7 linked regions of the Homo sapiens genome follow. The protein of the gene in region 1 interacts with the protein of each later gene in a biochemical or structural test. Each region holds a gene or a part of one and is shown in the gene's direction. Other genes may lie near its edges.

Region 1 (4,715 bases):
ATTTTCACTCATTAAGGACAGGTCCCCCGTGTTTCCCCCTTTTTTTTTTCCAAGTAGTTTGGGAGGATTTGTTTTTCCAGCTGAAAAATACTATGGTTAAAAATAAGGTTTAAAGGCGAAAGTTGAAGTCTTTGAGGGTTGGGATACGTTTCTGTTCTTAAGAGTCTTGTAAATTCAGATGCTAAGCAAATTTCTTTAAAATGATTTCTACCCTCCCCCTTTCCATTATAAAACTGGATATGTTTCAGTGGACCAAATCCCAAGTAGGCTGAATTTGAAATTTGTGGGCTGGGCGCGGTGGCTCATGCTTGTAATCCCAGTACTTTGGGATGCCGAGGTGGGTGGATCACCTGAGGTCAGGAGTTCGAGACCAGCCTGGCCAACATGGTGAAACCCCATCTCTACTAAAAATACCAAAATTAGCCAGGCGTGGTGGCGGGTGCCTGTAATCCCAGCTACTTAGGAGGCTGAGGCAGGAGAATTGCTTGAACCTGGGAGGCGGAGGTTGCGGTGAGCCAAGATCGCCCCATTGCACTCCAGCCTGGGTGACAGAGCAAGACTGTGTTTCAAAAAAATTAAAAAAGAAATCTGTGGTGTGAATACTGGTACGTGGTGTACACAGTGAGCTCTTAATAAGTATTTGAATTAACAAATGAGACAATGATTGAATAATTGGATGAACAAAGAGAATGCAGGTTTTTAAAAGGTTTCTTTAGAAATATTGTCGGCCCGGCACGGTGGCTCCTGCCTGTAATCCCACCATTTTGGGAGGCCGGGGCAGGTGAATCACCTGAGGTCAGGAGTTCAAGACAAGCCTGACCAACTTGGAGAAACCCCGTCTCTACTAAAAATACAAAAAAAAAAAAAAAAAAATAGCAGGATGTGGTGGCACATGCCTGTAATCCCAGCTACTCGGAGGCTGAGGCAGGAGAATCGCTTGAACCTGGGAAGCAGAGGTTGCAGTGAGCCAAGATCGCGCCACTGCACTCCAGCCTGATGACAGTGTGAGATGCTGTCTCCAAAAAAAAAAAAAAAAAATTAAAAAGAATGTTTTAATTCTTTAGTTCCCTGTCTGAGATTCACTGATTGGTAAGAAGAAAGTTAAAGAATCTCCTTTGACTTTTTTTGATATAGATATTTAAATTCTATTACTTTATAGTAAGGTTGGGGTTTATTTTCTTTGCTTTATAATAGAAGAGCATTGATTATTCTCTTTGCTTTATAATAGAATACCATTTAAATAGGAGTTCCCTGAGTGTGTTTACAATCATTTGATCTGGCTAAACTATTTTAATGTTAATGAAATTTTAAAATTTTGGAGGAAAAAATTTAAAAACTACACAGGTGCACAAAGAAATAAAAATCACCTGCTTTTTCACTATGTAGAGACCATTGTCTACTATTTCTCAATTCTGTGTTACATCTGTATGTTAATAACTGTAGGATTAGGGACTGAGTACTGTTTTTAACCTGCTTTTAAAAAATTTACATCTACATTTTTTCCCATCTAAATAGTGAGGAAGAGTATCAGAATTTTGTAGGCTTGTGGTGATGGTTAAATTAGATAATATTAATGTTGGGTACTTAACATAATATATGGCTCTTAATACTCTCCAGATTTCAGATATAGTCTGTTTTACCATTACTGCCTTTTTATCAAACCTATTCTCAAAAAAGTGAGAAAAGTGCTGAGATTACAGGCGTGAGCCACCATGCCCGGCCTCATGGTTCTTTCTTAATAATAAATTAGAAGAAGTAGAATTACAGGGTCAAAAAGTATCCATTTTAAAGCTTTCAATGTAATTGCCTGTTTATCTTCTAGAAAGTTTGACCTAGTTGTATTTTAGAGTGTCATTTTCTTGAACTTTATCATCATTAAAGTTTTAAATTTGGAACACTGGCAATTTGATAAGTATATTAGGATTCTTCTTATTGCAAGTAGCAAAATACAACTCAATCTAGTTTAAGAGGGGAAAATGTAGTCATTGGCTAACACAATCTAATTTTGGTTTAAGAGACAAATCTAGAGTCTCAAATGATCTCAGAGTGTAATAATCCCTGACTTTTGTCTTGATATTACTTGGCTTGTATACCTTTGCTCTATTTGCATGCTGGCCTTACTCTGCCACTGACAGGCTGTCTGTATGGTGTGGAAGAGGACGGCTAGCATCCCCATACCTGCATCCATACAGTTTGTAATATAAAAAAAAAAAAAGTAAAAAAAACTCCCTCTCTCTTCTAGTGTCTATATATCAGTTTCCTAGAAGAAAACGTTTTGCCCTACTTGGCCATGTGAATGGAGTTCCCTGATTACATGAGTCAAATATGTCTTATTGTAGCATATTTGATGGTCTTCTTGTAGAATATTATCTTACTATACACAGAACTCTTGACCAGTAATTAATGGGCCATGAGTTTTTGTTGCAAGTCATTTGAATTCATATTCTATAGTTTTCTACCAAGTGTAGTCATTCTGCAAGCTGTTCTTGTCATGACTTTTGGGAAGTTGAGTATTTCTTCTATGGGTTAGGGTTTTCATCTCAAGAAAAAGATGATCCTTTTCTCTACTAAATATGTGTTAAGATCACACATTTTTCTAGATCGTTTAGCTCTACTGTGTGATCTTACACAAATTGCTTTATTGGGATGATAAGAATAATTGCCTTATAGGATTGTTATGAGAATGAAATGATACATCAACTCATATGAAACACTCAGAACAGCTCTTGGCACAAAGTAAGGGCTTAATTAAGTAGAAACTATCCATATATTCATAATATTATAGTATTGGTTAAGTTGTTTTCAACATTGTTTAGAATCGCTCAAGCCTTCTTTGTGATAATCTGACGAAGGCTATTCACCACCAGTGAGTAAATAATAGTGGCAGAATAGTTACTGATGCTTTTCCTTTACTTGGTTTTTTTTCCATAAACATCTGGCCTTTGCAGACTAAATACTGGTTTATGTATAGACATGTTATTCTAAAATAATTTTCCATAGTGGTAATACTAAAGGAAGAAAAATGTTCTCAAAGCTATTTATTTGGGATGTTAAAGGAGGGGGAAATTAAGAAAGCCTACATTTCCATGTCCTTTGTGTCCAGAATCTCATTAAATGTCTTTTAACTTGTTAGCAGAGGAAAGTTGGATATTGCCTGCCTTTGTAGCTAACATAGTTAAAATATTTAAATGGTTATAGTGTCAAACCAGTAGTCAAAGCCTTCACTGTGAATGGATGAAGGGATATTTTCTTGAATAATTTAAGTTGACTTATTTCAGTGGTTCAAAAAATTTCTTCAACGCTTAACCATGACTCAGGCACCTAACTATTATACTATGTCCTGTAACAGATTGTTGTGCATTCATTTATTCAACAGGTATTTGTGCAGCTAATTTATTGAGTACAGCATTGAATCGTTGATGGCTTAGGCCACAGTTGAACATTCCATTTTTTATGTTCATTCATTCATTCATAGCATATTCCATTTTTAAATTTTCAGTTCATTGCACTTTAAAGTTTGAGGTTCTTGCGAAGTACAGACTTTTGGGTTTAAGTTTTGTTATTTAATGTCAACCACCACAGGCGCATTGGCCAGTCTGCTTTTAGAATTTTCAGACATACATACACAAAACATTCTCACAAGACAATCTACTTATTTTCTTTTTTATTCCTGTGTTTCTTAACACAGGATTAATGTTCAGATCTCTTTTGGAGCAAAATAATCCTCTGAATTTTTGAGATGTACCCAGTGACCTCAGTCTGAGTATGTATACTGCATTAAAAAATGTAACCTTGTTCCTTTTAGTGGTCATTTGGTAACAGTTTGATCATAAACAAATGCAGCCTCAAACACAGAAGGCTTGAGGCAAGTATACAGAACTATGGAGAGATCATTTAGATGATGTAGAATATGCCTTTTCTTTTTTTACAATGCCACCAAAATGAAAACACGGTTTTAAAAATTCTCATAGAGTGTAACTTCAACACTGCTTTAACTCTATTAAACAAAGCACTGCCATGTTGTAATTCCTATTTATTACTCTCTGGAGTTGTATAAATTACCAAATCCGCCTTTTGTTTGATATCCTTTTCAAATATCTGAGGGTAGCTATCATGTTTCTTCCTTCTATTCTTAAAAAATAGTCCCAAATTTCTTGAATCTTTTAATTTAAAAATTATATATTGAGCATCTGATTTGTGGAAAGGCATAGGCCATATTAAAAATGGGGCTTCATATTAAAATGGGGAAAAGGGTGGAGATTCTCAGGTGGAATCTGAGATCTGCCACACACTAATAGTGTTACCTAACCCTTTTTAAAGACAAAGAAACAGGATCAGAAGGTCACTTTGGAAAATTTATTTGGTAATATTGGATAGGATGGATTAGTATAGTTGGAAAACAGAGACTCTTGCTTTAGGAGAGCTGCTCCTTTGTCATTTCCAGAATCTTAATCATGGTCAAGGTTTAGAGCTAAATATTTAATAGAAGAAGTCTTTAGGGTATGCTTTCTATTGTACACCCTTATTTCAATACATGTGTTTTTTCCTGTTATGTAAGTACTTTATTATTATTTATGCATCTTCTATTAAAGTTAAGCAAATAATTATTTCAAGGACACATTCTTCTACATACACACAAAGTTTAGGGTCACTGACCTTCTTAGGTTCTAGTCTTAGATCTGTTACCATCTAAGAGCATATAAATAAGGGAAACA
Region 2 (4,172 bases), on another chromosome or scaffold:
ATACCTCTTCCCATTGATGTCCTACCCCCCTTCAAGGCTGAGGTCATTGTCACCTCCTCCCTCAAATCTTTCTTGATTTCTCCCGGCTAACTCTTACAGCTCAGATCTACACATTCCAGTCTTTTTTTGTTTTTGAGACAGGCTCTCACTCTGTCGCCCAGGCTGCAGTGCAGTGGCACGATCATGGCTCACTACGGCCTCGAACTCCTGGGCTCAGGTGATCCTCCTGCCTTAGCCTCCTGCATATTTGGGACTACAGGCGTGAGCCACCACACCTGACTAATTATTTTTTATTTATTTATTTATTTTAGAGACAAGGTCTTGCCATGTTGTCCGGGCTGGTCTCGAACTCCTGGGCTCAAAGGATCTTCCTGCCTTGGTCTCCCAAAGTGCTGGGATTATAGGTGTCAGCTGCGGCGCCTGGACCTTTCCTGTCTTTTATGAAACCTGAATGGGATAGGCTGGTAGTTTCACCACACCCATTTGACAGATGAGGACATTGAGGGCTCAAGGACGAGGCCACTTTCTAAGGTGTGAGAGACCAGCTAGTCTTGGTCTCCTGCTCTGGGAATCTCACTCCTCTGGCTCAGGGTTTCCAGAAGCCATAAAACCTTAGCTGTAAATCCCAGCCCCCATCACTCTTGGTGTTAGCTGTATTTCAGTGTTCTTAAGAACTCAGCAATGCAGCCTAGCTAACCTACACCACAGGTCAAATAAACAGATGTCAAGGTGCATGTGTGTCCTGCACAATGGACTGTGTGCTCTGTGCACTAAAAGTTAAGTGTCTGGGGTGGGGGCTGGGTGCGGTGGCTCACGCCTGCAATCCCAGCACTTTGAGAGGCCGAGGAGGGTGGATCACCTGAGGTCAGGAGTTCAAGACCGGTATGGGCAATATGGCAACACCCCATCTCTACTAAAAATACAAAACATAGCCGGGTGTAAAGGTGTGCCTGTAGTCCCAGCTGCTCCAGAGGCTGAAGCAGGAGAATTGCTTGAACCCAGGAGGCAGAGGTTGTAGTGAACGGGAGATGGCACCACTGCACTGCCTGGGCAACATAGGGAGGCTACATCTCCAGAAAAAAAAAAAAAAGTTAAGTGTCTGGGTTTGCAGAGTACTAGACGGTGAGGAGTGAGGTGGGGAGGAAGAACCCCAAATTTCTTGCCCTATTTGCCCCCATCAAATTCCTCAACATGGTCAACATTGTTTCTAGAACATGTCCTGGGATTGTGGGAAGGGAGACCACTCATTTGCCCCTCCCTAAAGCTTCTGGGCTTCCAGACCCAGCTACTTTGCGGAACTCAGCAACCCAGGCATCTCTGAGTCTCCGCCCAAGACCGGGATGCCCCCCAGGGGAGGTGTCCGGGAGCCCAGCCTTTCCCAGATAGCACGCTCCGCCAGTCCCAAGGGTGCGCAACCGGCTGCACTCCCCTCCCGCGACCCAGGGCCCGGGAGCAGCCCCCATGACCCACACGCACGTCTGCAGCAGCCCCGCTCACGCCCCGGCGAGCCTCAACCCAGGCGTCCTGCCCCTGCTCTGACCCCGGGTGGCCCCTACCCCTGGCGACCCCTCACGCACACAGCCTCTCCCCCACCCCCACCCGCGCACGCACACATGCAGATAACAGCCCCGACCCCCGGCCAGAGCCGCAGAGTCCCTGGGCCACCCCGGCCGCTCGCTGCGCTGCGCCGCACCGCGCTGTCCTCCCGGAGCCGGACCGGGGCCACCGCGCCCGCTCTGCTCCGACACCGCGCCCCCTGGACAGCCGCCCTCTCCTCCAGGCCCGTGGGGCTGGCCCTGCACCGCCGAGCTTCCCGGGATGAGGGCCCCCGGTGTGGTCACCCGGCGCGCCCCAGGTCGCTGAGGGACCCCGGCCAGGCGCGGAGATGGGGGTGCACGGTGAGTACTCGCGGGCTGGGCGCTCCCGCCCGCCCGGGTCCCTGTTTGAGCGGGGATTTAGCGCCCCGGCTATTGGCCAGGAGGTGGCTGGGTTCAAGGACCGGCGACTTGTCAAGGACCCCGGAAGGGGGAGGGGGGTGGGGCAGCCTCCACGTGCCAGCGGGGACTTGGGGGAGTCCTTGGGGATGGCAAAAACCTGACCTGTGAAGGGGACACAGTTTGGGGGTTGAGGGGAAGAAGGTTTGGGGGTTCTGCTGTGCCAGTGGAGAGGAAGCTGATAAGCTGATAACCTGGGCGCTGGAGCCACCACTTATCTGCCAGAGGGGAAGCCTCTGTCACACCAGGATTGAAGTTTGGCCGGAGAAGTGGATGCTGGTAGCTGGGGGTGGGGTGTGCACACGGCAGCAGGATTGAATGAAGGCCAGGGAGGCAGCACCTGAGTGCTTGCATGGTTGGGGACAGGAAGGACGAGCTGGGGCAGAGACGTGGGGATGAAGGAAGCTGTCCTTCCACAGCCACCCTTCTCCCTCCCCGCCTGACTCTCAGCCTGGCTATCTGTTCTAGAATGTCCTGCCTGGCTGTGGCTTCTCCTGTCCCTGCTGTCGCTCCCTCTGGGCCTCCCAGTCCTGGGCGCCCCACCACGCCTCATCTGTGACAGCCGAGTCCTGGAGAGGTACCTCTTGGAGGCCAAGGAGGCCGAGAATATCACGGTGAGACCCCTTCCCCAGCACATTCCACAGAACTCACGCTCAGGGCTTCAGGGAACTCCTCCCAGATCCAGGAACCTGGCACTTGGTTTGGGGTGGAGTTGGGAAGCTAGACACTGCCCCCCTACATAAGAATAAGTCTGGTGGCCCCAAACCATACCTGGAAACTAGGCAAGGAGCAAAGCCAGCAGATCCTACGGCCTGTGGGCCAGGGCCAGAGCCTTCAGGGACCCTTGACTCCCCGGGCTGTGTGCATTTCAGACGGGCTGTGCTGAACACTGCAGCTTGAATGAGAATATCACTGTCCCAGACACCAAAGTTAATTTCTATGCCTGGAAGAGGATGGAGGTGAGTTCCTTTTTTTTTTTTTTTCCTTTCTTTTGGAGAATCTCATTTGCGAGCCTGATTTTGGATGAAAGGGAGAATGATCGAGGGAAAGGTAAAATGGAGCAGCAGAGATGAGGCTGCCTGGGCGCAGAGGCTCACGTCTATAATCCCAGGCTGAGATGGCCGAGATGGGAGAATTGCTTGAGCCCTGGAGTTTCAGACCAACCTAGGCAGCATAGTGAGATCCCCCATCTCTACAAACATTTAAAAAAATTAGTCAGGTGAGGTGGTGCATGGTGGTAGTCCCAGATATTTGGAAGGCTGAGGCGGGAGGATCGCTTGAGCCCAGGAATTTGAGGCTGCAGTGAGCTGTGATCACACCACTGCACTCCAGCCTCAGTGACAGAGTGAGGCCCTGTCTCAAAAAAGAAAAGAAAAAAGAAAAATAATGAGGGCTGTATGGAATACATTCATTATTCATTCACTCACTCACTCACTCACTCATTCATTCATTCATTCATTCAACAAGTCTTATTGCATACCTTCTGTTTGCTCAGCTTGGTGCTTGGGGCTGCTGAGGGGCAGGAGGGAGAGGGTGACATGGGTCAGCTGACTCCCAGAGTCCACTCCCTGTAGGTCGGGCAGCAGGCCGTAGAAGTCTGGCAGGGCCTGGCCCTGCTGTCGGAAGCTGTCCTGCGGGGCCAGGCCCTGTTGGTCAACTCTTCCCAGCCGTGGGAGCCCCTGCAGCTGCATGTGGATAAAGCCGTCAGTGGCCTTCGCAGCCTCACCACTCTGCTTCGGGCTCTGGGAGCCCAGGTGAGTAGGAGCGGACACTTCTGCTTGCCCTTTCTGTAAGAAGGGGAGAAGGGTCTTGCTAAGGAGTACAGGAACTGTCCGTATTCCTTCCCTTTCTGTGGCACTGCAGCGACCTCCTGTTTTCTCCTTGGCAGAAGGAAGCCATCTCCCCTCCAGATGCGGCCTCAGCTGCTCCACTCCGAACAATCACTGCTGACACTTTCCGCAAACTCTTCCGAGTCTACTCCAATTTCCTCCGGGGAAAGCTGAAGCTGTACACAGGGGAGGCCTGCAGGACAGGGGACAGATGACCAGGTGTGTCCACCTGGGCATATCCACCACCTCCCTCACCAACATTGCTTGTGCCACACCCTCCCCCGCCACTCCTGAACCCCGTCGAGGGGCTCTCAGCTCAGCGCCAGCCTGTCCCATGGACACTCCAGTG
Region 3 (3,500 bases), on another chromosome or scaffold:
TTGCATTGCTGAGAGAGACTTAACTTTTTTTAGATTTAACATTCCTAACCACGGTATTCAATAAATAAATGTTAAGTGCCTAAAATGTACACGTGTTGTTCTAGGAGCTGGGTGTACAGTAGTGAACCAAAAGACAAAGTCCACGCCCTGCACAAAATAGGAATTACCTCCATGTAGAGGCGAGCCTTCAAGAGCTGAAGTGGCTTGCTCTGGTCATAAAACTAGAGGGCAGCAAGCTCTGAAGGCAGATTGCTGGGACTCCACACCCCTCTAACCATAACTCTGCTGTGTTCCTCTTGACCCTGATGACAGGTACCCGCAAGATGGAGTACAAGGGCAGCAGCTGGCATGAGACCTGCTTCATCTGCCACCGCTGCCAGCAGCCAATTGGAACCAAGAGTTTCATCCCCAAAGACAATCAGAATTTCTGTGTGCCCTGCTATGAGAAACAACATGCCATGCAGTGCGTTCAGTGCAAAAAGGTATCTCAGATGCCCCCTTGGCCCTTGCACGTTCTGGCTGGTTTGCCTCCATGGTCCATGTCTGTCAGTTCTCTTTCCAAAACCAAGGATACCTGTGATACTTAAGTGGCGTGGGAGCTGTGCCTGTCCTGCCTTACATTCTGAGCATTTATCCATCGGGTCTGGGTGTCCATCCTTCTTTCAAAGACATCAACATTGTTGAGCTCTGTGATCAAATCGTTTAACCCTGCCTTCTTCTAGACCATTTCTAAATATGTTCTTATGTTGATAACCTGAGGTTAGAGGGAAGGGGAGCCACCATCCCAAAGCTGTCTTGTTCAGCTTCTCTCCATGAATAAAACAAGAAAACAACTGCAAACTTGAGAGGGAGAGAAAGATGGAAGGAAGAGGGAGGAGAGGAAGGGAGGAGAGAGAGACGGATGTGAGAAGAAAAGTAAAGGAGAAAAGTCTGCCTCCATGGATATGGGACAGATCATTTATTAAATGTATCTACTCTGGCCGGGCATGGAGGCTCATGCCTGTAATCCCAGCACTGTGGGAGGCCAAGGCTGGTGGATCACCTGTGGGAGGCCAAGGCTGGTGGATTACCTTAGGTCAGGAGTTCAAGACCAGCCTGGGCAACATGATGAAACTCCATCTCTACTAAAAATACACAACTTAGCTGGGTGTGGTGGCACACGCCTGTAGTCCCAGCTACTCAGGAGACTGAGGCAGGAGAATCACTTGAACCCGGGAGGTGGAGGTTGCAGTGAGCCAAGATCCCACCACTGCACTCCAGCCTGGGCGACTGAGCGAGACTCCATCTCAAAAAATTAAAAAAATAAATAAATAAACTTATCTACTCGATAATGTGCTATTCCAGTCATGGCTCTGTTAGGGTTAAAGAAAGAAAGGGAACTGCATATCTGTAGGAAGCCATCTCTCTGCCCAGTTGCCCCCCGACCTGCACCCTTCAGGGTGTAGCTTAGTTTTCTGCTGTGCCCTCTGACTCTTAGACACACGCAATTCTTATTATGCTATAGCTTCCAGCGTCTCTGTCCTGTTAGGATTTGCATCAGCCTGTTGAGTGGCACCCTCCCACTGCTCACTCGCCCTGGGCAGCGCCAGCTGTGGAACTCATCACAGGTTCTGTTCGCTCTCCTCCTGTTATTGACTCTGCTCACCCAGCTTCTGCTGTTTTGCCCTTGGGGCCTCTACCCTTGCGTCTGGGCCATGGAGAAACATCCCCAATGCTGCTACCTGTACCTGGCTGGCCTGGGCAAGAATATCCCCACCTTGCCCACACCTTTTCTAAGTGCTGAGTATTCTTACCAATTTCCATTCAGTCTTTCTCTCATTTCCTTTTTTTTTTTCTTTTTTTGAGACAGAATCTCACACTGTCGCCCAGGCTGGAGTGCAGTGGCTCGATCTTGGCTCACTGCAACCTCCGCCTCTTGGGTTCGAGCAATTTCTCCTGCCTCAGCCTCCCAAGTAGCTGAGATTACAGGCGTGCGTCACCATGCCCAGCCGGTTTTTTTTGTATTTTTAGTACAGACGGGGTTTCAACATGTTGGCCAGGCTGATCTCGGAACTCCTGACCTCAGGTGATCGACCTGCCTCCACCTCCCAAAGTGCTGGGATTACAGGCGTGAGCCACCATGCCTGGCCCCATTTGTTCTTTACTGTTATTTTAAATTTTATTTCTCTTTATTTCCTCTCCTTTTATGCTTCTGTTTTTTTCTTTTTTTGAGACAGTTTCACTCTGCCACCTGGGCTGTAGTACAGTGGCATGATCTCAACTCACTGCAACCTCTGCTTTCTGGGTTCAAGTGATTCTCCTGCCTCAGCCTCCTGAGCAGCTGGGATTACAGGCAGGTGCCACCACCAAACCCACCTAATTTTTTTTTTTTTTTTTTGTAGTAGAGACGGTGTCTCACTTTGTTGGCCAGACTGGTCACAAACTCCTGTTTTTTTCTTTATTCTTAGATTGAGCTCTCATTCCTGCTTTTATTTTAGGAACCCTCTTCCCTGTTCTCTCCCCTTTTTATTTTTATTTTGGTTTGTTCTTCTCATCAAGACCTAACGGAAGTTCATCTGAGTTGCTCTTCCTCTGTCATCTTTCCAATGTGTGCTTTATTCATTTGCAGAAATGAAAGCAACACATCCTTCTGGGATGCATGCTTTTTGTGTGCATGTTCATTAAATACACAAAAACATTCATGCCAGAAGCATCCATTCCTCGACATGAACTTGGCCCTCTCAGGCACTGGGGATCTGATGCTGGACAAGATGCAGACACTTAACTGTAGTCTAGGTGGAAGTACACTCCAGTGTCAAACCCGTCAGTAGTTACTGAGCAGTGTGCTATGGAGGAGAAGAGCAGAGTGTGGAATGGAGGGACCTCAACTAATCTGAGGAGTTGGGGGCCAGGGTGGTGTTGAGGGAAGGAGTCTCTGAGAAAGTCATGCTATGCTCAGAGGCATTGAGTTAGCTGATGTGGGTGGGAAGCATGGAATCCGGAGCAAGGGAGGACTGAGGACACATGTTGCAGGCAGAGATGTCTTACACACACAGGCTACTGCATTCACATGGATACGTTGCAACCAAGCGTGTTTGGTGTTCATTCTCTTGTGCAGTGGGGTGGGTTATACTAAGATGCTTCATGATTTATGGTTTAATGAAAAGAATACAAGATAGAAGGGAGTCCAGAATTCTAGTTCCTGCTTCGTCATTAACCAGCTATGAATTCTTTGGCAAGTCACTTTTTAATTTCTCTGAGTCTCAGTTTACTCATCCATAAAATTAAGATAATATCTTTCCTACTTCACAAGCTTTATGTAAAGACCAAAGGAGTTACTGCATGATACTGAAATGTTCAAAAAATAAAAAGCAAAAAAGTGTGATTGTGAGGTGCTTGCACTCCATCTTCCACAGCCTTCGTTTGCCAAGCTGAGGCCACCTACACTCCTCTCTGATAGCTTACTCAGCTCCACCAAGCACTCATTTTTAAATAGAATGTGAGATGCAACATTTGGAGAA
Region 4 (3,470 bases), on another chromosome or scaffold:
GTTGGGCCTGACCCTAGCTCATCAAGAGCTAGGATGTTCACCTGTCAACCGCACGTCTATGCAGGTATGGAACCTGGCTAACTGCAAGCTGAAGACCAACCACATTGGCCACACAGGCTATCTGAACACGGTGACTGTCTCTCCAGATGGATCCCTCTGTGCTTCTGGAGGCAAGGTATTTGGGGACAAGGCGTCTCCTACTCAGTGGAAGACAGCGTCATGGAAGGAGCACTTAGCCAGCGTCTCTAACGTAAAATGGCAAACATTAGCCAAGATGGTTTTAGGAGGATAATGAGATAATGGCAATCTGAGAATATGTTTCCAAAGATTACTTTCAGCAAATGACAGTTAAGGCATACTATCTGGAAGAAAAAGATGATTTTCTATAAGCCTGTGGGTTTTTTTTGTTGTTTTTTTGTTTGTTTGTTTTTTGTTTTTTTTTTGAGACGGAGTCTCACTCGGCTGCCAAGGCTGGAGTGCAGTGGCGCGATCTCGGCTCACTGCAACCATCTCCCGGGTTCAAGCAATTCTCCCATCTCAGCCTCCCGAGTAGCTAGGATTACAGGCACCCGCCATCACTCCTGGGTAATTTTTGTATGTTAGTAGAGAGGATTTTACCATGTTGGCCAGGCTGGTCTTGAACTCCTGACCTCAGGTGATCCGCCCACCTCGGCTTCCCAAAGTGCTGGGATTACAGGCATGAGCCACCGCACCCAGCCTAAAGTTGGTTTCTTGAAGCAGTTGATGAGATTGGGATCCTGGTTTTCAGAAATGATTGGAGTGATTTATGTAAGTTGGGAGGGGTTTTTTGATGGGGTTGGTAAGGTCTTACGTTAAAGGAAAGGTATACAGAGATAAATATTGGTACTTGAGTCATTAGCTTTCAAAGAAGCCTGGGGTAATGGAGGAAAGGTAAGAATTGATTCTGACAGAATCTTGAGATGGGCAGAATTAACATCTGGAAGAGGTCACAGTGTCCTGATTTACCTTACCTGTGTCCAGGATGGCCAGGCCATGTTATGGGATCTCAACGAAGGCAAACACCTTTACACGCTAGATGGTGGGGACATCATCAACGCCCTGTGCTTCAGCCCTAACCGCTACTGGCTGTGTGCTGCCACAGGCCCCAGCATCAAGATCTGGGTGAGTGTGGGTTACAATTGACTGGGTACCTGGCTGCACTCTGAGCCCTGGCAATGTTTTGGTTATTATATATGCCATCTGACTCCCACCTGGGAGCTAAGCTTTCTCAGCCTCCACGTAATGACATTTTGGTCTGAGTAACTCTGTTGTGGTGTGCAGTCCTGTACATTCCAGGATGTTTAGCAGCATTTCCAGCTTCTACTAGATGTCAGTAGCAAACCATCCTTCCACTAGTGGCAACTGAAAATGCATGTAGGCATTGATACATGGACCCCAGGGAGCAAAATCATCCCTTTTTAACTTGAGAATCTTGAGGGGCTTTTAAGAGGAGACTCTCTTGATTGGTAAGTCTTAAGGTTGCTTTTGCCCTGTTCCCCAGGATTTAGAGGGAAAGATCATTGTAGATGAACTGAAGCAAGAAGTTATCAGTACCAGCAGCAAGGCAGAACCACCCCAGTGCACCTCCCTGGCCTGGTCTGCTGATGGCCAGGTAAGTGGGTCTGTCCTCTCAGGTGATTCTGCTTCCAGTTAATTTTCTCCCTCTCATTCTGTTAGTATATCTAGTCTGTCAGACACAAGAGCAGTGTCCTTGGCATAAAGTGAAATGACAAGCCAGGTTGATGAGGATGCCCTCGTTTGCCATGCCAGTGAATGTGTTTCTGCATCAGAGGGAAGACTGATGTGGAACGCAGTGGCTGTCAGCCTTCAATTAATACCTTAATTAATCTGACCAGTTTTCAAATGTCTGGAGCCTTATCACCAGCTGTTTCTTCCTCAAGGAATACATAACCACCACTTACAAGCTGGCTGTTGAAATGAGAGCGGTTTCTTACAGTCTACCCGGCGTTGTGGCACATGCCTACTGGAGGCTGAGGTGGGAGGATCTCTTGAACTGCAGGGGCTTAAGGCTGTAGTGAGCCAGGATCGCACCCCTGCACTCCAGCCTAGACAATGGAGCAAGGTGGACGGATCTCAAAAAAAGCCACTTGGGCTGAATCTAGTGAGACTGCAGAATTTATGCCAGCCTGACCTGTCACTGTCATTTCTTCCCTGCAGACTCTGTTTGCTGGCTACACGGACAACCTGGTGCGAGTGTGGCAGGTGACCATTGGCACACGCTAGAAGTTTATGGCAGAGCTTTACAAATAAAAAAAAAACTGGCTTTTCTGACTTTTAGGTTTTTTTTTCTTATATGCAAAAAAGCTCCATTCTATCTACATTGCTTACACATTAAGTTTGCACTAGCGAACTGGATGCAAGGTATGGACTAAGTAAACAAGGCTTTGAAGGGGAGCTGTCCGTCTAAGTTCTCAGGATTGGGGTAGCATCAGGTGGGATGTTTGTGAGAAGTCACATAGCAGTTTCCCTGAACTTAAACCCCATCAGCGTCCTACATACCACGTGCAGATCATCAGGGCCTACCTTCAACCTGGGGAACCTTCTTGAGGGAAAGAACTGATTTCAAAGTGGTTGCAGTCAATTTTTAGAAAAAGCAGACTCCGCAGGTCCAACCCCTGACACGTAAGAGTGGAAGATGAATCCTCATTCCTCTAAAGATTTGAACATAATTCAGAAAACTTAAGCTTCATGTTAGCAGTCTCTGTCAACATGGTCTTTGAGGAAAGTCAAGGGTTTTTAATTCTTTAAGCAAGGCAGTTCTCACCAGAAGAACTTAATTCAAAACTAATTTATTCCTCAGGTCAAAAGTTTTGGGGTGGTTGGTCTGGAAGCATTCATAAATAGAACCATAAAGTTGGCCCTACTAAACATTTCAACTGCTACTATAACCTGGCCCTCAATCCCCCTACACACAAACACAGTTTATTCATGAGGATAGATGCCTTGTGAAAGGCCAGAAGTGAGCCATTAAACTACAATTACAGTTTCCAATAGAAACCTCAGTACAGGGATGGAATGGTTCAACATGCGGCTGAGACCCCACTACCCTTGCAATTTTCTGTGCTAAGCAACTACAGCATATTGAAGGCCCACATGCACCCTCCACTTCCTACTCCCCTCAATTTATAATGGTGATGAGGCATTTCTGGCTTCAGTTTCAACTACGTGTGGCAAACATCTCTAAGTAGACTGAACAGTTAGTAAGTTAGGTTAAGATATTAAAATGGGGAGCAGGGTCCACATCCCTGTTGAAATAGGAGCCTGCCTGGTAACAGGTGCAAAGCATGCCTTTAACTGCAACTAACCAGTTCAGTTGTGTGGCTTCTCACTGCAGGGGCGGCAAAGGAAGAAATCCTGAGTTACACCCTCACCTGAAGGAACAGACCTCACAAGAGAAGCAAATAAACATTTTATTTCCACAGCACGCC
Region 5 (4,715 bases), on another chromosome or scaffold:
AATACTATGATCTAACAGGCAGTCCACACTCAGGCATGCTGGTTGTCCTGGGGATGTTCTTTGTGGCATCCCCCCACATTGACCCACAATCCAGCTTTGTTATGTCTCCTCAGTGTCTTGCCTGGAACAGTTTCTCAGCCTTGGTGGAGAAAGGGAACCTTCACGTTGCAGGGAAGCAAAGGTGCTCAGCAGGAATGGGGGTTCAGAAGCGCAGGCTGCCCCAGGACAGGGAAGCTGTTGAAGGGTTTGCTCTAGTCCATGAAGTTGCCTTTCCTGGCTTTTTCTTTGATGTCAAAAGCACCAGGAGGTGAGCTTAGATCTCAGGAAGCGCACCAAGAATCCGTGCATGAGTCCCCTGCGGTGTGTCTGACTCCATCACCATGGCGCCTGTTCGTTGCTGGGCTGGTTGGCCTGCAGAGCCCTGAGTGGTCTCATGGAGGGTGCCCTTCTGAGTGACCTTGAGCATGTGACTTCTATTCCTACCAATTTCAGTGTCCTAATGTATAGAACAGCCAGTGACACAAATTATAGTAGTAAACATTTTTTGAGCATTCTTGTCATGCAAATCAATAAAAAATCTGAGCCACCCAGAAAGTCCATGAGGCCCTAAGTCATTCAACTTAGCGTTTACTGTGCATTGGCTCACTTCATCTTCTCAGTAACCCTAGGTGCTGTCATTGTCCCCATTTTATGAATGTGGAGACTGAGCGATTTATCTAAAGTCACAGACTTGCAAGGGGCAGAGTGAGGTACTGAACCCAGGGCTACTTGTCCCTGTAATTTCCTTCCATAGTGACCGTTACCTCCCGGGATAATGTATGTGCAGCAGCTAACCCTCAGTGAGTGTAGGAAACAGAGGTGCTGGTGGTGATTATCACCTCCCTAGTGTCTGCTTGCAAGTACCCTGAGGTTGAAGTATGGGACTCTGTACACTACAAGAGCAGGGCCTATGCCTGGCTGTTTCCCAGCACCCCAAGTCACTGTTCCTAAGGAGGTACATGGTCAGTGTTGGTTGGGTACCAAAAGGAAGCAAAATGATAACTTTCAGACAGCTGAGATATGCACCCTCTTGTCGACCCCCATGCTTCCGATATTTTAGGTCCTGTGTGTGGAAGTTTTTTTTTTTTTTTTTAGACGGAGTCTTACTCTGTTGCCCAGGCTGGAGTGCAATGGCGTGATCTCGGCTCACTGCAACCTCTGCCTCCTGGGTTCAAGCGATTCTCCTGCCTCAGCCTCCTGAGTAGCTGGGCTTACAGGCATGTGCCACCACACCTGGCTAATTTTTTGTATTTTTAGTAGAGATGGGATTTCACCATGTTGGTCAGGCTGGTTTCGAACTCCTGACCTTGTGATCCACCCTCCTTAGCCTCCCAAAGTGCTGGGATTACAGCTGTGAGCCACCGCACCTGGCCCTTTGTGTGGAATATTAAGCACCCAGTGTTTTCTGTACTACCGCCCTTTTTCCTTCATAGAAATGATTTTTAACCATTAATTTTTAAAATGTTAGTAAACCTTAAACTTTTTATGTTGCACATACTCATATACTGCTGATAGGCAGATAAATGTATATACTGTTTCTAAAGGGAAGCTTATCAATATCTATGTAGAGCCTTCAAAGCACACATTTTGACCAATAATTTTTTTTTTTTTTTTTGGTCAAAGATGTAGGCCGGGCATGGTGGCGTACACCTGTACTCCCAGCACTTTGGGAGGCCGCAGTGGACAGATCACTTGAGGTCAGGAGTTCGAGACCACCCTGGCCAACGTGGTGAAACCTCGTCTCTACTAAAAATACAAAAATTATGTGGGTGTGATGGTGGATTCCTGTAATCCCAGCTACTCTAGAGGCTGAGGCAAGAGAAACGCTTGAACCCAGGAGGCGGAGGTTGCAGTGAGCAGAGATCACGCCACTGCAGTCCAGCCTAGGCAACAGACTAAGACTCTGTCTCAACCACGACAACAACAAAAAGACAGTCTGGTCGCAGTGACTCACGCCTGTAATCCCAGCACTTGAGAAGCTGAGGCAGGCGGATCACCTGAGATCAGGAGTTCAAGACCAGCCTGACCAATGTGGTGAAACCTCATCTCTACTAAAAATCCAAAAAGATTAGCTGGGCGTGGTGGTGTGTGCTTGTAATCCCAGCTACTTGGGAGGCTGAGGCAGCAGAATTGCTTGAACCCAGGAGGTGGAGGTTGCAGTGAGCCGAGATCACACCACTGCACTCCAGCCTGGGTAACAAGAGTGAAAACTCCATCTCAAAAAAACAAAACAAAACAAAACAAAAAGATTTAGTCAAAGTTTCACATTCCTGGTGGCTCACACCTGTAGTTCCAGTACTTTGGGAGTCCAAGGCAGGCAGATTGCTTGAACCCAGGAGTTCCAGACCAATCTGGGCATCATGGCAAAACTCTGTCTCTATAAAAGAAAAATTAAAAAGTAGCCAGGCTTGGTAGTGCATGCCTGTAGTCCTAGCTACTTGGGGGGCTGAGGTAGGAGGATCACCTGAGCCCAGGGAGGTAGAGGCTGCAGTGAACCATGATCACACCATTGCACTCCAGCCTGGGTGACAGATTGAGACTTGTCTTTAAGCAAAACAAAAGATTCATATTCCAAAATGTTTCTCAGTGCCTTCTTTATAATGGCAAAACACACATACACAAAATACAAAAATACCACGTCCTATGATGGATAAATAATTCAGTAAGGGGTTGTATAGCTTAAATTATATGTGGTATAATATTATTCACCTATTAGAAATGAAGCTGAAAAGAAATTTAGTGACATTAGAAATATATAAACCAAAAAAAGCTGTATACAAATTTATTGGTTATATTGCAGTTTATTTTTAAAATTTATATATCTGGTTGGGCATGGTGGCTCACGCCTGTAATCCCAGCACTTTGGGAGGCCCAGGCAGATGGATTGGTTGAGCTCTGGAGTTTGAGACCAGCTTGGGCAACATGACGAAACCCCATATCTACAAAAAATACAAAAATTAGCCAGGCGTGGGAGTGTGTGCCTGTAATCCCAGCTACTCGGGAGGCTGAGGTGGTAGGATGGCTTGAACCTGAAGTGGAGAGTGTGTTCAGTCGAGATCGCACCACTGCACTCCAGCCTGGGTGACAGAGCGCGACTCTGTCTCAAAAAAAAAAAAAAAAAAAAAAAAATTATATATTCGTACATGTAAATAAGACTTACCAAAACCAAAAAGGTAACCATATTTTTTTTCCTGTACAGCAGGATTACAGGTGATTTTTATTTCATTTTATGTCTGTGTCTGTTTCCAGCTTCTATGAAGGTATATATCAAATTTATGAAAACCAGACAAAAATGCCTTTAAAATTTTCAGGACAAGTAGGAGAAGATGAAAAATTTGAATACAACATGGAGGTAAATGAGGCAAAAATGAATATTGAGAGGGCCGGTCATGGTGGCTCATGTGTGTAATCCCAGCACTTTGGGAGGTGGAGGTGGGCAGATCACTTAAGCCCAGGAGTTCAAGACCAGCTTGGGCAACACGGCAAAACCCTGTCTCTACCAAAAATACAAAAATTAGCCAGTCTCATAACCTGGTCTCTAAATAAATAAATAGATAAAAATACAAAAAACACATGTTGAGGGCACTTCTTGGCCCCTGTGAGTCACCTGGAGAAGTGTGCTTAGGAGCCATCCAGGTAGCAGCTTTGGGGACTTCTGGGACCACTCAGATGCTCCCACCCCTTCTCTGAAAACCACCCTGTGTAGGCTCAGGGCAGTGCCTGGCACAGGGGCCTGGAGAGCTCCAGGGAACAGAGGCTCTGTCCCCTATGGTGCCCTCAGGAGTTTGGGGAAGAGCAACATACCTAGGAAGCCAGATGCACACTCTTCTTATTTTCTTATTTTGGAAACTTGAAAAACCATTAACAGTAACCGATTTAGGTATTTTTTTTGGTTTGTTTTTGTTTTTAGGAGCAGAGGTTTAACAGGCAAAAGAAAAAGAAAGAAAGGAAAACAGCTCTCTCTCTAGTGAGAGAGGGGACTTCTGAGAGGAAAAGCATTTTTTGTTGTTTTTTGATTTTGGTTTTGTTTTAGAGATGGGTTCTTGCTCTGTTGCCCAGGCTGTAGTGCAGTGGCACAATCCTAGTTCACTGCAGCCTTGAGCTTAAGGGATCCTCCCTCCTCAGCTTCCCAAAAGCACTAGGATTACAGGCGTGAGCCACTGTGACTGACCTTATTAGATTATTAGATTAGAATGATTATAACACAGTCATTCAGGAAGCAAGTATAGGAAGAAAAAAAAGGCAACACAAGTTCATTGTAGAAAATGCAGAAAAGCAAAAAGGAAATAAAAATCACTTGACTCTATCCTCCAGAAAAGATGATAGCATCCTTTCTCTAGGCCTAAAACACATTATTTCACCAAAATAAGAGTTTACTGTAATAATAGGTTTTTTTTGTTTTGTTTTGTGTTTTGTTTTTTTTGAGACAGAGTCTCGCTCTGTCGCCCAGGCTGGAGCGCAGTGGTGCGATCTCGGCTCACTGCAAGCTCAGCCTCCTGGGTTCATGCCTTTCTCCTGCCTCAGCCTCCCGAGTAGCTGGGACTACAGGCGTCCGCCACCACACCCAGCCAATTTTTTTGTATTTTCTTTTAGTAGAGACGGGGTCTCACCATGTTAGCCAGGATGATCTTGATCTCCTGACCTCATGGTCCTCCCGCCTCGGCCTCCCAAAGTGC
Region 6 (4,416 bases), about 44 Mb from region 1:
GGCGTGGGGGTGGCGGGGAATACTCTGACATCGCTGGTTCTGCTTAAGAATCCGTCTATTTCCAACTTTGTTGTCCGTAGCCACACAGTCTTACCAGTGGTATTCTTGGGGTCCCCCTAACATGCAGTGTCGTCTCTGCGCATCTTGTTGGACATATTGGAAGAAATATGGTGGCTTGAAAATGCCAACCCGGTTAGATGGAGAGAGGCCAGGACCAAACCGCAGTAACATGGTAAGGGGGGGGACACCCGCCCTGCCTGCCATGAGCCTGTCGGCCACGCGGGTCCTCGGCCCCCGGTCATGGCGCTGTGTTGGGGCGGTTGCGCCCCCTTCCGCAGAGTCCCCACGGCCTCCCAGCCCGGAGCAGCGGGAGCCCCAAGTTTGCCATGAAGACCAGGCAGGCTTTCTATCTGCACACGACGAAGCTGACGCGGATCGCCCGGCGCCTGTGCCGTGAGATCCTGCGCCCGTGGCACGCTGCGCGGCACCCCTACCTGCCCATCAACAGCGCGGCCATCAAGGCCGAGTGTGAGTCACCCCAACGCCCCGCTTACTCTGTTCCTGCGGGTGGTGGGGAGAGAGCAGCAACCTTGGGGCCCAGCCTGTAGCCCCACTGGGAGTTCTGATCTCAGGGAGCCCCACGTCCTCCTCGGTGCTGACATGGCCGAGCCCAGTGAGGGCTCCCAGGTCAAGGCGCAGGCAGGGTCCCGTGCTCCCCTGGGGGTGCCCCACCCCTCACACCGTGTGGTACCCCGCAGGCACGGCGCGGCTGCCCGAAGCCTCCCAGAGCCCGCTGGTGCTGAAGCAGGCGGTACGCAAGCCGCTGGAAGCCGTGCTTCGGTATCTTGGTGAGCAGCCAGGCGTGCTGGGGGGCTCCCAATGCTGCCTGCAGGCAGCTTCTCACCCAAGCTCATGCACTGGTGCTCCCAGCCTTCTCTAGCTGGGAGCTCCTGGACAGCCCCCCAGGGCCTGGAACTGTCCTTTTGGGGTACTCTGCACCGTGCCAGGCTCAGGCAGACCCACTGGGACCCAGGCTGCTCCCTGCTCCTGGGGTCGTGATGGGGCCCAGTGCGGAGTAGCGGCCGCCCTGTCTTCTGCGGGGCCAGCCTCCTCAAGGCACACCCGGGGGCTTCCCTGCCAGTCTCGCTACCCTGTTCCCTGTGTTCTGATCGTCCCTGGGGCCTGAGGGTCTGGGGTTTAGGTGGTGCACACCCCTGCCTGTAATACCATTAAGGCAGCGTCGTACCTGCTGCCTGCAGGGAGTATACTTCCTGAGCCACGCCCACTCCACAGGGGCAGCACTCAGGCCTCTGCACGCCCTCGGCAGGGGGAGGAGCAGCCTCAGGCGGCAGGGGGTTCCTTTGCCTTTGAGCATCTGAGGACACCCGAGAACCTCAGCCGGCTACCCTGGCCCAGCTGGAAGCAGCTTGGTGGCTGGGCCAGACATTTGTGGTGGCGGTGGGGGGCCTCCTCCATTTGCTGGGCTCGAGTGGGCTTGTGCATCTGCCCTCCCGACACAGGGTGACTGTCCTGAGAAGGACATTCCAGAGTCATGAGCCAAGTGTGCTCTGAGATTCAAGTGGCTTTGGCATTGCTCCCTGTTTGGGGTTGTGGCCCCTGTCCTGTGGGAAGAGGTGGCTGGTGTCAGGGCTGGTCCTCAGCAGCTGTGTCCCTGGCCAGGCTGGCTGGATGGTTGGTTCGCTGTCTGACGAGCAGCCAGCCCTCCACCAGCAGCTCCGGGGGCCTGGACGTGGGGGCTGTTTAATAGGCGTGCTGTGCTCACGGGCCTGTGTATGGATCCTGTTGTCCCGGGGCTGAGGGGCCTGGCCCCCGCCAGGTGGTCTCCCTGCTCTCTGGAAGCCCTGGGGTGCGGGACTGGCCCGGGCACACGCCTTGCCGAGGGCTTCTGGGCTTCTGGTTCTGTGGTGACCTCCCCACTTCCAGCCCAGTCAGGATGGGGCCTCGGGTGGGGGCCGCATGGGGCTTAGTTCCTGGGGGTATCCCGGAACCATGAGGGCTGGAGCCTGGGCCTGCCTGCCCCTCCCCTGCTGGGCAGAGGCAACTCGTTCTGCCTGTGTCATTCCCGGCAGAGACCCACCCCCGCCCCCCCAAGCCTGACCCCGTGAAAAGCGTGTCCAGCGTGCTCAGCAGCCTGACGCCCGCCAAGGTGGCCCCCGTCATCAACAACGGCTCCCCCACCATCCTGGGCAAGCGCAGCTACGAGCAGCACAACGGGGTGGACGGTGAGTGGCCCCCCCGCCCGGTGAGTGTGGCCCTCCCCGCCCGGTGAGTCCGGCCCGTCCCCGCCCGGGCACCCGCCGTGCGTGCTGACGCTGTCTTCTCTCCCTCTCTCCCACCCCGGCGCTGCCAGGCAACATGAAGAAGCGCCTCTTGATGCCCAGTAGGGGTAAGGCCTGGAGCCGCGGGCGGGCGCTGCGCCGGCCCCGCCCGTGATGCCTGTGCTGTGCTGCTCTGTGTCCCCGCGGCGGGCGGCCCAGGGCCCATGCTTGGGGCAGTCCACGTGAGCCAGGCCACAGCCCAGTTCCCCACATTCCTCCCGACATCACTGGTCCCTTGGTGAAGACCCCCCGAGCCCAGGCATCTGGCCCTCGGCCCCCTGGCCCCGCCTCCTGTCAGTGGACTGTCCTGGCACGTGTGGCCCTGGCGCCCCTGCCTGCGCTGTCTGCCATCGCGCTGTGACTGCCCGCATGCTGCCAGCCTCAGCTCGTGGGGCCGCCCGTGCTGTGCCTGCAATCCTTCCGTGCGCCTGCCAGGCGGGACAGTGGGGAGGGTGGTCGGGGGTGTCTGTGTGGGCCGTGGGCAACTGAGCTTGTACACATGGGTGCCTTCTGTCGGAGGACTGGCTCAGGTGCTCTGTGCCGGTTGCTTGGAGCAGGGGCTGCGGGACCCCAGGCCCCTTGGGGAAGAGCAGATAGGACCAAGCCTAGCATGAGGAGGCCAGGTGTGTGGGGCCCGGGTGTGCAAGTGCTGGGCCTGCCAGTGTGGATGTGCCTGGAGCCCCTTCGCCAGGCGGCTTTCACTGACGGTGCTGGCCAGGGCAGCAGGGCCGGTTTGGCGACCTGGAGGTGGATATGGGTAGTGGCTGCCCAGCCCAGCCAACCCTGTCCCCTTGGGGCATTCTCTCGAGGCTGCTGGGTGTCCTGGCAGGCACGTCCTGTGGGGTCAGCACGCCGGCTGCAGCGCAGGGTGGGCCTGAGATCGGGTGCCGGGCCCCCCATCTCCACCTGTCTGGACACGCACCCCTGGCCTGTCCTTGCAGCTTCCTCCCGACATCCCTTGGCGGTGTCTGTGTCTCGGCCCCAGCCCCAGCCCTCCTTTCCTGGGGCACCCTCCCAGCCATCTGGTATTGGGGCTGCCCCCATTGCCTAGTCCTGGGCCCAGGGCCAGCCCACTCTGGGCTGGCTTTACTTGTCTGTTCCTAATGGCAGGGCGTCCCAGGAACAGCCCCATAAGAGCTGGTAGAAACAGGAGGGAGTCCTTGTCAGCAGGCATCTTCGAGCTTTTTGTTTTGTTTTGTAAAAAGCGGTTAACCAGCAAGTTACATAAAAGCTTATTTGTTCCCACTGAATTTTCCACACCTCACACGTGAGTCCCAGCCATGCAGTGCTTGTGAGGGAGCATCACCCCTTGCCGCCTGGCTGGGCGGGGCCCTGGGCTCAGAGGGGTCAGCCACAGAGGAAGCGCCTGTCCTGACGTGTAGCGGCCAGGACCTGGGCGCTGGAGAGGGGCCAGCTGGGTGAAGACGGCTCCCGGGGGCACTGGCGCACACGAGGTGGGGTCTCTGTCCAGCCTGGGTAGGCATGAGCTGAGCTCGAGTGAGGGCCCTGCCTGCCCACAGCACGGGGCCCCAGCGCTCTAACCCGGCCATTTGCCCGTGCAGCCTGTTGCGCTGTCCCCACCTGCGGGGCCTGCAGATGGCTGCGTGTGGCTCACTAACCTAAAGCATGTGTTTCTTCCCTCTGCTGTCCACCGCTCTGGTAGGCACTTACCTGGGTAAGTAGTTTTTGTGCTACTGGCCAGCCCTGGGCGCTGGGCCTTGGCTTGTGGCAGGTGCCCTGAGGTATGGCTGTTCCTGCTTGGGAGCGCCGCAGATCAGGCACCTGGGCCCCCACCTGACCCTGCCCGGCAGAGCTAAGCAAACTGGCAGGGAAAGGCTGACCCAGGGCTCCAGGGCCCCAGTTGGCCCCCAGGGGAGTGCCCCAAGTTAGGAGGCAACTGCAGGTGGGGAGGGGCTGGACAGGCTGCTTCTGTTCCTTAAGGGATGGGCCTCAGCTAAGCAGCGTTTCTGGAGCTGGCAGGTTGCTCCGATGCCCCTGGGCCCTGGCACCTGACTGAGTTGAGTATGACATCCTGTCCTCTCTGAGCTGGTCCTGCTGGGAGCCGAGCCATCCTGGG
Region 7 (4,715 bases), on another chromosome or scaffold:
CCCCCCCCCTCACTTAGAGGAGGGCACGGGGAAGGGCAAACGGTCCAGAGGGCGGGCGGCCTGCGGGCTCCTCTGCATCATGTGAGGAGGGCGTGGGGAAGGACATCCCGGTGGGGCCCGGTCTGGGGCTGCCTCCAGCCCGGGCTGCCTGTCTTGGACTTAGTCGTGGACCTGGAGGCCAGTGCCCGGCTGGCCCCTGTCACCCTCTCGCTGTGACGCCAGCGCCTGCTGACTGGAGGACCCAGGTTCCTTCGCCTGCTTTTTCTCAGGCTGCCCTGAGGATCTGTGTTTGGTGAAAAGGAGCCAAATTCACCTGCAGGGCAGGCGGCTCTAGCAGCTTCAGAAGCCTGGTGCCCTGGCGACACTGGACCTGCCTTGGCTTCTTTGATCCCAACCCCACCCCCGATTTCTGCTCTGCTGACTGGGGAAGTCATCGTGCCACCCAGAACCTGAGTGCGGGCCTCTCAGAGCTCCTTCGTCCGTGGGTCTGCCGGGGACTGGGCCTTGTCTCCCTAACGAGTGCCAGGTGAGGCTGCGGCGGCTCCGACGCAGGTGGAGCTGCTGACCTGGCCCCTTTCTGCGGCTGCGAGGTGTGTGAGGTTCGTGGGCCTCCACAGGTGTGGGAGCCATCCAGGTCCCCAGGGCCCTTGTGGCTATTCTAGGACAGCCCAAGCCGTAGTAGGGACGGCCCCCCACAGCTTAGAAGACCTGGCTCAGTCCCCCAGCTTTGTAGAGGTGGCTCTTGTTTGGTGTTGAGATATCAGACTTGGGGGTAGTAGCTTCAGTGTTCCCATGGACTTTGAAAACCAGCACACACTTAGGTTTGAATTCTTGGGCAAGTTTTGTATCTTGAGCGCTGTTTTTCGTGGGTAAAGGTGGCCACCAGTAGGGTGACAGTTGAGGGTGGCATTGAGGCTGCTGGCCCTGTCTGCCTGGTGTCCCCAGTGACAGTGCTGGCCGACAGGCTCCCGCCGAGAACGCAAAGGCGAAGGTGCCAAGCCCCCGAGGTCCCGTGCAGATGTGTGGAGCTGGAATCTGGCGTGTGTGCCGCTGCCTCTGATCAGGGACCTGGTCCCCTACCCCATGCTCCTGCCCTGCCCTGCAGGACCCGTCTGTCCCCTGAAGCCACAGGGACGTGGTAGTGGCTGCACGGTCTGGGAAGGGTGTCCCCGTGGAGGGCTCCTCTCTCAGTGAGGCTGAGCCTCTGCCCTGTGGTACTTGTTCTGCTCTGTCTTCAACATGGTGAAACCCTATCTCTACTAAAAATACAAAAATTAGCTGGGCGTGGTGGCACACGCCTGTAGTCTCAGCTACTCGGGAGGCTGAGGCAGGAGAATTGCTTGAACTCAGGAGGCGGAGGTTGCAGTGAGCCGAGATCGTGCCACTGCATTCCAGCCTGAGCAATAGAATGAGACTCTGTCTCAAAAAAAAAAAAAAAAAAAAAAAAAAAGAATAACAGGTGTCCCCTGGCCCAGCCTGAGTCTCAGTTCTGAGCGCCTGATACTAAGGCAGGGACCCAGCACCCCACATCCATCTGGGGCCCCAGCCCTGCCTAGTCCCCACCTGATGGTATGGTGAGGACCCTGCCATGTCAGCCACCACAGGGTGGCAGCTACCCCCCAGCCGCAGCGGCCCAGCCTCTGAACATCTGTCTCCTCACCTTCGAGCAGAGGCCGCAGCATGTGTCGCAGACCAGGGCTGGGTTGGGGCCATGGGGAGGGGTCCTACCTGCCCCCGCCTCCCGGTGATCTGGGCGCCGCTCACAAGGCCTCCCCTGGTAGACCCCCGGGGTCGGACGACGGCTTGCAAGAAGAGAGTCCCTGCTGGGCCAGGCCACCGTATGTTAGGAGCAAGCCTGCCTGCTGCGGGCCACGTGCGCGTGCTGGGGTGGCAGGAGCCCGCTCGCCTCTCCTGACCCCGTGCTCTGCCTCCTGTGTTCCAGGGACTTTGAACATGTCGGGGATCGCCCTCAGCAGACTCGCCCAGGAGAGGAAAGCATGGAGGAAAGACCACCCATTTGTAAGGAGGGCTTCATTTCTGTGTGCAGTGCCGCGGACAGGCTCCCTCGGCTGAAACCGCGCCCTCCCTACTGGGAGGGAGCTGGTCGCGTGCCTGGGCTGGGCCGGTGGGACTCGCAGGCCGGTTCTTGGTGGTTTTGCTCAAACTAGATGCCGCCACGCTGATATGCTTTTGTGGTTGTTTTCTTTTCTCTCAGGGTTTCGTGGCTGTCCCAACAAAAAATCCCGATGGCACGATGAACCTCATGAACTGGGAGTGCGCCATTCCAGGAAAGAAAGGGGTAAGGGGCGCTGCCGGCCTCCTGCCTGTCGGGGCTCAGCAGATGCGTGCGGCAGTGCCATGGGGATACTCCGCTCAGATCCCTGCCGTCCGTGACGGCCACCCTTGTCACAGGCCGCGGTCAACAGCTCAGATCCCCAGCTGTGGCCTGGCCCCCGCCCCGTGAGGACTTGAGCTCAGAAGGTGGTGCTGGCAAGGTTGGGGTGACAGCTGTGTCCCTACCGAGGGCATTTCTGGTTGAGAAGGAAGCAGGCTGGGCCTGGCCGGGCACAGGGCTGAGCTGTGGCAGAGGGGAAGGGGCTCTGATGTGTGTTGGGAGCAGGCCTGAGGGGCGGGCAGCCTTTGCGTGCTGGAACCCGGGATTCTGCTGTGTCCTTCCAGGTGTGGCTCAGGTCGCGGGAGCTGGGTTTGCAGGAGAGCCACCCCGGCCTAAAACCGTCTACTGGAGAACCTCCTGGGGCACAGGGACTGGCGGCAGCCACCTAGGATGCCTGCTTGGGGCCCCGTGTGTCTGTGGCAAGCAGGGCGGCCCATGTGCCTGTCCTCTTTGCCCGGCTCACATGAAGTGCTTGGCCAGGGACTCCAGGCCGGCTTGCACATAAGGTTCATGCTCGTGGACTCTGAAGGAAGGAGAGATCCCTGAGGTGTTGGTCCTGCCCGAGGCCTTGTTCCCTCCGGCCCATGCCAGCCTCTGGGTTTCGCTCTGAAACTCACAGCAGCTCCGGCCCCCTGAGCTGAGCAGTCCCAGCAGGACTCAGCTTTGCCCGAGACAGGATGTGGCTTGGATTTGTCACTTGTCTGAGGCTCTGCTGAGAACGTCCCTTGCCCTTCACATTACGGCGAGGCAGGTGCGCGCGCGGCCCCAAGGAAGACGGGAGTGGTGTCGGGTTGTGGGGTGGCAAAGGCGCCTCATCCAGGCGGGACCTGGGGCAGGGGCTTGCAGAACACCCTGGGGTGAGGGCACGGGTGTGCTCTTGGCGCTGCCGGCCCCAGTGTGCGGCACTCGTTGCCCCCCAGCCCAGCCCCCGACCCCCGTCTCCTCCTCTCCTTTCCAGGAGGGCCTTTCCGACTCACTCTCTGGGCATGGCAGAGGTCCTGACCGCCCCCTTGGTGGGGCTGGTCCAGGCTTCAGGCTGGTATGGGAGCCGCCTCTGTCGGGCCTCTGGCCCCCGGTGTCCTCGCAGTCCTGGAGGTTGTGTCCTAGAAGCGATCCCCTTCCTCCTGGGCCGGCCTGCGGCAGGCAAGCAGCCCATCTCACCACGGTTTATTTCCCCACAGACTCCGTGGGAAGGAGGCTTGTTTAAACTACGGATGCTTTTCAAAGATGATTATCCATCTTCGCCACCAAAATGTAAGTAGCTCCCTGTTCAGTGTCCTGGAAGTCGGCCTGTTCCTGCGGGGATTGGAGTCCTCTCCAAAGAGGCCCGTGGCTGTGGCCGTGGCGCCCTGGTCCGGGCGATCCATGGAGCTGGGAGGGAGTGAGATCACAGATTTGGAGGTCGGCTTTGATCCCTGATCCCCGCCTCAGGCTGCAGATGCGAGTCTGTTTCCAGCTCCACGGGTGGGCGGTGCACGTAATAGACTTAGTCTCTCATCCCAGCTAATTGGCTGGGAAGCTCCAGAGTCCTTTGCAGGGAGAGGCTGTGAGATCCAGGCTGGAGCTCCTGGGCTAGGAGTGCCTGGACCCTCAGTGATTGTTGGCGATGAAGACAGGATTTGGTGCCCACAAGACCCCAGCCCTGGATGGGATGGACGTGCAGAAGCGCCACCACTCCGAGTCTCACTGGAGGGTTTATCTTGCCCCACCTCACTGCTCTTCCTGTGGGCTCTCGCAGTCTCTCCCACCCGGGGCTGCGTCTGCAGCCGGGCAGGCATAGAGCAGGGGAGCAGCAGAGAAGGCGCGAGAAGAAAGGGCTGAGGCCAGGTTCGACTTTGAGCCTACAGCTAAGTTAGTGATCTCAGTCAGTTCAGCAAAACTCAGGAGAGGGAGGAGAGGGCCGCCACGTCCCTGCCGTCCCATAGCTGGAAATCGGCAGGCCCTTTCTGTGGTGAGTTCCACGCATTAACACGTGCCCAGCACCTAGACAGCGCCTGGCCACGGTGAGGCGAGAGTGCTGTGTAAAAGCTTCCACTGCAATTGTCACTCAAGACACACAAGTGTTTTCCACAGTGGCAGTGACCAGAGGAGCTTGAGGACTGCTGACAGCACCAGCTGGTCGAGACTTGCTTCATTTTTGGATTGTCCTTTGCTGTTTGATTTTTTTTTTAAACCATGAGCAGGTATTACTTAAGATGACTTATTTTAATTAAGAAAAATATAAGAATGAGACACAGTAGCTGCTTTCATTGATTCTGTTCAACCGTTGATTGGAATTCCAAGCAAATGCAGCAAGACAAGAAAAAGAAGTCACAACGGA

What was found.
Region 2: the proteins of HIF1A (region 1) and EPO form a complex in vitro, tested with the Homo sapiens proteins (2 studies listed by BioGRID).
Region 3: the proteins of HIF1A (region 1) and FHL2 form a complex in vitro, tested with the Homo sapiens proteins (2 studies listed by BioGRID).
Region 4: the proteins of HIF1A (region 1) and RACK1 form a complex in vitro, tested with the Homo sapiens proteins (2 studies listed by BioGRID).
Region 5: of the proteins of HIF1A (region 1) and USP20, one has a biochemical effect on the other in vitro, tested with the Homo sapiens proteins (2 studies listed by BioGRID and IntAct, with this or other methods).
Region 6: the proteins of HIF1A (region 1) and MTA1 form a complex in vitro, tested with the Homo sapiens proteins (2 studies listed by BioGRID).
Region 7: of the proteins of HIF1A (region 1) and UBE2I, one has a biochemical effect on the other in vitro, tested with the Homo sapiens proteins (2 studies listed by BioGRID).

What each region holds. Positions count from the first base shown.
Region 1 is NC_000014.9:61,701,420-61,706,134, forward strand, and holds part of HIF1A (hypoxia-inducible factor 1-alpha), read left to right. Parts: intron 1-4,715.
Region 2 is NC_000007.14:100,719,096-100,723,267, forward strand, and holds the start of EPO (erythropoietin precursor), read left to right. Parts: upstream 1-1,372; 5' UTR 1,373-1,885; coding exon 1,886-1,898; intron 1,899-2,462; coding exon 2,463-2,608; intron 2,609-2,866; coding exon 2,867-2,953; intron 2,954-3,568; coding exon 3,569-3,748; intron 3,749-3,882; coding exon 3,883-4,038; 3' UTR 4,039-4,172. UniProt on the Homo sapiens protein: Hormone involved in the regulation of erythrocyte proliferation and differentiation and the maintenance of a physiological level of circulating erythrocyte mass.
Region 3 is NC_000002.12:105,364,552-105,368,051, reverse strand, and holds part of FHL2 (four and a half LIM domains protein 2), read left to right. Parts: intron 1-312; coding exon 313-482; intron 483-3,500. UniProt on the Homo sapiens protein: May function as a molecular transmitter linking various signaling pathways to transcriptional regulation. Negatively regulates the transcriptional repressor E4F1 and may function in cell growth.
Region 4 is NC_000005.10:181,235,772-181,239,241, reverse strand, and holds the end of RACK1 (small ribosomal subunit protein RACK1), read left to right. Parts: intron 1-64; coding exon 65-175; intron 176-1,002; coding exon 1,003-1,143; intron 1,144-1,522; coding exon 1,523-1,633; intron 1,634-2,199; coding exon 2,200-2,265; 3' UTR 2,266-2,345; downstream 2,346-3,470. UniProt on the Homo sapiens protein: Scaffolding protein involved in the recruitment, assembly and/or regulation of a variety of signaling molecules. Interacts with a wide variety of proteins and plays a role in many cellular processes.
Region 5 is NC_000009.12:129,841,481-129,846,195, forward strand, and holds part of USP20 (ubiquitin carboxyl-terminal hydrolase 20), read left to right. Parts: intron 1-4,715.
Region 6 is NC_000014.9:105,464,336-105,468,751, forward strand, and holds part of MTA1 (metastasis-associated protein MTA1), read left to right. Parts: intron 1-80; coding exon 81-232; intron 233-338; coding exon 339-528; intron 529-758; coding exon 759-848; intron 849-2,090; coding exon 2,091-2,243; intron 2,244-2,371; coding exon 2,372-2,407; intron 2,408-4,002; coding exon of another isoform or gene 4,003-4,014; intron 4,015-4,416. UniProt on the Homo sapiens protein: Transcriptional coregulator which can act as both a transcriptional corepressor and coactivator. Acts as a component of the histone deacetylase NuRD complex which participates in the remodeling of chromatin.
Region 7 is NC_000016.10:1,312,078-1,316,792, forward strand, and holds part of UBE2I (SUMO-conjugating enzyme UBC9), read left to right. Parts: intron 1-269; exon of another isoform or gene 270-526; intron 527-1,942; 5' UTR 1,943-1,953; coding exon 1,954-2,019; intron 2,020-2,215; coding exon 2,216-2,299; intron 2,300-3,576; coding exon 3,577-3,649; intron 3,650-4,715. UniProt on the Homo sapiens protein: Accepts the ubiquitin-like proteins SUMO1, SUMO2, SUMO3, SUMO4 and SUMO1P1/SUMO5 from the UBLE1A-UBLE1B E1 complex and catalyzes their covalent attachment to other proteins with the help of an E3 ligase such as RANBP2, CBX4 and ZNF451.